2 linked regions of the Homo sapiens genome follow. The protein of the gene in region 2 purifies or fractionates together with the protein of the main gene of each other region. This does not show direct contact. Each region holds a gene or a part of one and is shown on either strand. Other genes may lie near its edges. The genes, in order: WDR59 and SESN1.

What was found.
Region 1: the proteins of SESN1 (region 2) and WDR59 purify together in Homo sapiens (co-immunoprecipitation; one study listed by IntAct). This does not show direct contact.

Annotation. Positions count from the first base shown.
Region 1 is NC_000016.10:74,975,048-74,978,868, forward strand, and holds part of WDR59 (GATOR2 complex protein WDR59), read right to left. Parts: intron 1-3,821. UniProt on the Homo sapiens protein: As a component of the GATOR2 complex, functions as an activator of the amino acid-sensing branch of the mTORC1 signaling pathway. The GATOR2 complex indirectly activates mTORC1 through the inhibition of the GATOR1 subcomplex.
Region 2 is NC_000006.12:109,088,142-109,091,962, forward strand, and holds part of SESN1 (sestrin-1), read right to left. Parts: intron 1-3,821.

The sequences.
Region 1 (3,821 bases), on a different chromosome or scaffold from region 2:
TACTATCCTTGTTTTATGAATGAAGGAAGTCAGTCGGGCGCAGAGGCTCACACCTGTAATCCCAGCACCTTGGGATGCCAAGGTCGGTGGATCACCTGAGGTCAGGAGTTCAAGACCAGCCTGGCCAACATGGCGATACCTCGTCTCTACTAAAAATACAAAAATTAGCCAGGCATGGCAGCACACACCTGTAATTCCAGCTACTCGGGAGGCTGAGACAGGAGAATCGCTTGAACCCAGGAGTTGGAGAATGCAGTGAGCCTATATCGCGCCACTGCACTCCAGCCTGGGAGACAGCAATACTCTGTCTCAAAAAACAACAAAAAAAAACAAGGCTGGGCACAGTGGCTTATGCCTGTAATTCCAGCACTTTGGGAGGCCAAGACGGGTGGATCACCTAAGGTCAGGAGTTTGAGACTAGCCTGGCCAACATGGTAAAACCCCGTCTCTACTAAAAATACAAAAAATTAGCCGGACATGATGGCAGGCGCCTGTAATCCCAGCTACTTGGGAGGCTGAGGCAGGAGAATTGCTTGAACCTGGGAGGTGGAGGATGCACTGAGCCGAGATCATGCCACTGCACTCCAGTCTGGGCAACAAGAGTGAAACTCCGTCTCAAAAAAAAAAAAAGTAAAAAAAAGAAAAAAAAATTTAAAAAAGAAAACTGAAGCTTAGAAAGGAAGTAACTTGCCCAAGATCACATGGAAGACAGGTGGCATAACCTAAATCTTAACACAGTCTGGCACGAAATCCTTAACGTCTTTGTTCTTCTCCCATTCATCACCACATCTTTATATTAAATTTTCTAGAAAAAAAAAATAGGCCAGGTGCAGTGGCTCATGCCTGTGATCACAGCACTTTGGGAGGCTAAGGTGGGAGGATCACTTAAACTCAGGAGTTTGACACCAGCCTGGGCAACACAGTGAGACCCCCATCTCGATGTTAAAATACACATATATAAATTTATTTAAAAAAGAAAAAATATTTCACAGTATACATATTAATAGTCACTTACACCAAAAAGTCCTATTCTGCCCCTCCATCTCTATAGTTTTTCAAAATGAACATTGTATGAAACTAAAAAAGTAGGAACCGAAGCTGGATTGCTCCAGAAAAACACACAGATTATTAATTACTTATAATTTTGCTCCTAGCCAAATAATTTGAGTTGTGCTTTTTTATTTTAGTTTTTATTAGAGTAAAACACAGTCCTCAATCTTTATCTTTGTGGCAAAGCTGTTGCAATGCTGAGACTAATAAATCACCAACCATTATTAGGTCAGAAGAGAGTATACTTTCTGCTGAGATGATTCATTTTCAATTTCAAGATAAAAGAAAATATTGAGGAATTTCTTTATGAATCTAGGATACGAACGTTTTTCTTTTTCTTTTCTTTTTTTTTTTTTTTCTTTTGAGACGCAGCCTTACCCTGTCGCCCAGGCTGGAGTCCAAGGGCGCAATCTTGGCTCCCTGAACCTCCACCTTTTGGGTTCGAGCGATTCTCCTGCCTCAGCCTCCTGAGTAGCTGGGACTACAGGTGCCCACCACCACACCTGGCTAATTTTCTGTATTTTTAGTAGAGACAGGGTTTCACTGTGTTAGCCAGGATGGTCTCGATCTTCTGACCTTGTGATCCGCCCACCTTGGCCTCCCAAAGTGCTGGGATTACAGGTGTGAGCGACCAAGCCCGGCCTAAACATTTTTCTTAAGAAGACTTAAAAAGAATTTGGGAGGCCATGGTAGGTGGATCATTTGAGCCCAGGAGTTCGAGACCAGCCTGGCCAACATGGCTCTATAAAAAATACAAACATTAGCCCGGCCTGGTGGTGTGTGCCTGCATTTCCAACTACTTAAGAGGCCAAGGCAGGAGGATCATTTGAGCCCAGGAGGCAGAGGTTGCACTGATTCAAAATCACGGCACTCCAGCCTGGGCGACATTGCGAGACCCTGTCTGAAAACAAAAACAACAAGACTGAAAAAGCATAATCCATAAATTTAACTGCATTAAAATTAAAGTTCTGTTCATCAAAAGACAGCACATAGCTGGGAGTGGTAACTCACAAATACAGACACAGTTACTTGGGAGGCAGAACCAGGAGGATCATTTGAGACCAGGAGTTCAAGGAGGCAGTGCACCATGATCGTGACTGTGAATAGGCACTCCAGCCACAGTAACAGCGAGATCGCATCTCAAAAAAAAAATTTTAATTTAAATTAAAAAAAAATTTTTAATACCATAAAAAGAATGAAAAGGCAAGCTACAACTTGGGAGAATGGATTTACAATATATATAACCATACAGAACTGGAATCCAGAAAAATTTTTACACTCTTCTTAATCTATAAGAAAGAGACAATGCAGCCGGGCGCGGTGGCTCGCGTCTGTAATCCCAGCACTTTGGGAGGCCGAGGCGGGCAGATCACGATGTCAGGAGATCGAGACCATCCTGACTAACACGGTGAAACTCCATCTCTACCAAAACTACAAAAAAATAGCAGGGTGTGGTGGCGGGCGCATGTAGTCCCAGCCACTCGGGAAGCTAAGGCAGGAGAATGGCGTGAACCCGGGAGGCGGAGCTTGCAGTGAGCTGAGATCGTGCCACTGCACTCCAGCGTAGATAACAGAGCAAGATTCTGTCTCAAAAAAGAAAAATAAATAAATCAATAAATAAAAATTGGCCTTGATACTTATCTACTTATAGCAGCTTTCTTCAGTCACTAAAAACTGGAAAAAAACTAAATGTCCATAAACAGGTGAATGAATACACAAATTGCAGTCTATATACTGGAACACTACTCAGCAAGAAGAAGGAATGCACTAACAGATAGGCTCAACAACAAGAATGAATCTCAAAAGCACTAGGCTAAGCAAAAGACGCCAGGTAGGGTGGTGGCTCATGCCTGTAATCCCAAAACTTTGGGAGGCCAAGGTGGGAGGGCTGTGTGAGGCCAGGAGTTCAAGACCAGCCTGGGCATCAACAGCCAGATTCCACCCCCACAAAAAATTTTTAAAAATTACCCAGGACTGGCCAGGCACAGTGGCTCACGCCTGTAATCCCAGCACTTTGGGAGGCCAAGGTGGGTGGATCGTGAGGTCAGGAGTTCAAGACCAGCCTGGCAAAGATGGTTAGCCAGGCGTGGTGATGGGCTCCTGTAATCCCAGCTACTCAGGAGGCTGAGGCAGAGAATCGCTTGAACTCAGGAGGCAGAGGTTACGGTGAGCCGAGATCGTGCGACTGCACTCCAGCCTGGTGACAGAGTGAGACTCTGTCTCAAAAAAAAAAAAAAAAAAAAAAAGAGCCAGGCCTGGTGGCATATGCCTGTCGACTCAGTTATTCAGGAGGCTGAGATGGGAGGACACTTGAGCCCAGGAGCTGGAGGCTGCACTCAGCAAGGACTGTGCAACTGCACTCCAGCCTGGGCAACTGAGAAAGATTCTGTCCCTTCAAAAAACAAAACAAAACAAAACAAAAATGAAAGCCAGACTCAAAAGGCTACACATCATATCACATGATTCCATTTGTTATAGAAATCCCATCAGCAGCTGCCAGAGATAAGGGATGGAGATTGAGTACACAGGGGGACCAAGGAACTGTTTGGAGTGATGGAAACGTTCTACATCATGATTACGGCAGTGGTTACATGACTACATCCATTTGTCAAAACCCAACAAACTCTACAATTATACCTGCATAAACCTGGATTTTTTTTTTTTAATCACTCTGGCTATATGGAAGATAAAATGGAAGAAGGAAATGCTACTGTGAGGGAAGAGTTGTCTCCAAGTATGTTCAGCTGCTTTGGACATACAGAGCTTGATTT
Region 2 (3,821 bases):
GAGACGTGGGAAGAAACTCTTTTCTTCTTAGCTGCAGATAGTCATGTCTGCACATGGTGCCTGGAATAGCATGCTGTAGGAATGGAGACATCATTTGCTATGCTGAGGAAGGAGAACAAAAAAAAGAAAGCAGACAAGTAATGTAGTTGAGCCAATGAATCAATCAAGCTTGGAACTGCCAACCTCCAGACTTATTATGTGAAATAATAAACTTATTGTTACATTTTCAATCTATTTATTACTCAATTGGATAGCAACTAGATACTGCAACTCCAACTGTAACTCTAACAGCTATAAATGTGCATCCTACCCAGCAACGAAAGTTTCATTTCTCCTGGAGGTGGGGGGGTAATAATCACTTTACTAAATGAAAGCCTCCACCACCCCACTTACCAAAGATAAGTATTTTGTTGCTTATTCTAAATTTTCTATCTTAAGCCAATTTACTTTCAGACAATATTGATTGCTGGCAAACTTATGAAAATGACCAAATGACCATTCTTGGAAAAGTACTTGGCTATTCTGGATAGGCCTCAAAATCTTTTGATACATATGTGCTCTCATATTTTCCTCCTTAATTACATGTATCATCAAGACTATAGTTCACCAGTAGACTATATTAGGAAAGTGGGCCAGTATTAATACTCCCATTCCTTTGTTTAGAGAATCAAGAGTATCAAAAGGTGTAATTCTTCTTTTTAAAGTTTCTTTAAAAACCCAGTATAAAGCCTTGGATGAGAATAGAAAACCTTCTTCAAAAGCAGGAAACAAGTCTTACTGATCTTCAAGTCCTAAGTACAGTGACTGCCTGGCCCAGAATATTTCTCAAAAATGTGAATATATTTAAACATGCTGATGTGGAATCAATAAATTGAGAACTGGGGTATAAACAAAAGATGCTATCTCCCAATGTGTCCATTTTTTTTTTTTTTAACAGATTTAGCTGCTTGGAATTGAATTCATTCTACCACCTTGTCATCGTTTCTCCCTTGCCAACTACAGCCCTTTTAGCTGACCTATAGCAATTAAGGGCTTTCAGGAGCAGCTGCAGAAATTGCATATGCACCACAGCTTTTGCTGCTTTACTAATGAATAACAGAAAGCATTATGGAGTGCTACATTTGAATTAATATTTGCTTTCTCATGTGAGGCTGATGCTAAAATGGTAGGCAGTGAAGCTGGAGAGGTAAGTGAAAGCCAGATAATGCTGGGTACTATATGACATTAAGAAGTTTAAATTCAATTCTATTCTAAAGGGCTTTTGCCAGTAAAGTTACATAGATTTTCATTTTAGATAAATGGCTCTACAGCTATGTGGAGGATAGATATAAAAGTGGAGGGTGAGTTTAATCTGGAGAAGAAGACATAGCAGTGACAGAACTAGAACAGCGGTATCGGGGGCAGAAATTCATTTAGGAGCTATTTCTACTTGGATGTCTCATAGGCAACTTAAACTCAACATGTCTAAAACAGCAGTCATTTTTCCCCTAAATTGACCCCCTGCCACTCTTTTGTCTCAGAAAACAATTGCACAATTCACCAAGTACCTCAAGCCAAAAACTTTAGAGCCATGCTTAATTTTGTTATTTTCCTCATCTTCTAAATCCAACTAAATACTATATCCTGTGGTTTCTAACTCCTTGATATCTATCAGACCCATTTTAATTTTTTCCACTCCCTCCTGCCCTACCTCACATCCTAGTCCACTATCACTTTTGTCATAGGCTAGTAGGACAACCTCCTAATTGATGTCACACATCCACTTTTGACCATGGAAATCCATTCTCTAGAGTGATCCTTCTGACACACTATCAATCACTATACTACCTTGCTCAAAATCCCCCAGTGGCTTCCATTATTTCTATGATAAAGTCCACAACCCTTAAATAGCCTATAAGCCCCTCTGGGATCTGGTTTCTGCCTAGTAATAGCAGGCATACCTAACATTAACTGAGCATTTCTTTTATGCTAGGCACTGTGCTATGCTTTGCAAACATCATTTATTTTATTCTCACAGCAACATTGTGAGGCAGGAACCATAAGCATAATGCTCATTTTGCAGATGAGGAAACTGAATCAAGGAGAGATTATGTAACTTATTCAAAGTTGTAGAGTTAATAAAGTACAGTCCCATACTGCGTAACATTTCAGCTGATGATGGACCCCCATATGCAACAGTGGCCTCATAAGATTACACACTTGACCCTTGAACAACAAGGGGGTTAGGGGGCCAACCCTCCACACAGTTGAAAATCTGTGTTTAACTTGTGACTCCCTCCAAACTTAGCCAACAATAGCCTACTGTTGACTGGAAACCTTACTGATAATATAAACAGTCAATTAACACATATTTTGTATGTTATACATATTATATACTGTATTCTTACAATAAAATAAGCTAGAGAAAAGAAAATGTTATTAAGAAAATCATAATGAAGAGATCATATATTTACCATTCATTAAGTGGACGTGGATAATCATGAAGATCTTCATTCTTACGGTCTTCACTTTGAGTACACTGAGGAGGAGGATCAAGAGGAGGGGTTGGTCTTGCTATCTCAGGGGTGATAGAGGTGGAATAGGCGGAAGGAGAGGCAGAAGAGGCAGGCATACTCAAGTGTAACTTTTGTTTGTTTGTTTGTTTGAAACAGGGTTTTGCTCTGTCGCCAGAGGGCTGGAGGACAATGAGACAATCACAGCTCACTGCAACCTCGAACTCTTGGGCTCAAGCGATCCTCCTGCCTTAGCCTCCTGAATAGCTGGTACTACAGGTGTGCTCCACTGCACCCAGCTAATTTTTTTTTCTTGACTTTTTGTAGAGATGGGTCTTGCTATGTTGTTCAGGCTGGTCTCCAACTCCTGACCTCAGGAGATCTTTCCACCTCAGCCTTCCAAAGTGCTGGGATTACAGGTGTGAGCCACCCCGCCCAACTTAGTATAACTTCTATTGAAAAAATAATCTTCCTATAAGTGGACTCATGCAGTTCAAACCTATGCTGTTCAAGGGTCAATTGTAATTCTATATTATTACTCTACCTTTTCTATGTTTAGATACACAAATACTTACCATTGCATTACAATTGCCAAAGCGTATTCAGTACAGTGACACGCTGTACGGGTTTGTAGCCTAGAAACAACAGGCTATATAACACATAGCCTAGGTGTGTAGTATCTAGGTTTGTGTGATTTCACCCTATGATGTTCAAACAAATATGATACCACCTAACGATGCATTTCTCAGAGTGTATCACCATCATTAAGTGACACATGACAGTATCGCAGCCAGGTCTGCCAAACTCCAGAGTATGTCCTCTTAAGCTATTCACGCCACCCTCAAACTGTCTGCCCCAGCCATATTGCATTACTTTCAGCTCCTAGAACTCATCTGCTCTCCTTGGCATGAGGCCTTCATACATACCGTTCCCTATGTCCGGAATGTCCCCTCACAAATCTCACCTTTACATGGGTAATATTTATTCATTTATCATGTCTCTGCTTAAATGTCATTGCCTCAGGAAAGCTTTCCCTTACTATCTAAAATTAAATTTTATATTTGTTTACTTCTTTATGGTCTGTTTCCCTTTGGTATGATGTCAAAATTGTTACCACTGGTCCTCAGTTCTCAGAATGACATTCAGCAGGAGTTCAATAAACATTTGTTGCATAACTGCAAGCATAAATGAATGATGCTGGGGTGGAAACTCCCTAAACTGAAAACTTCATCTATTCAGACTACTGATGAAAAACAGAAAGAAAGTATAAATTTGTTCATCCACTGGATATTTATTTAGTAGCTTCCAGGTCCCAGCCAGTACTCTTAA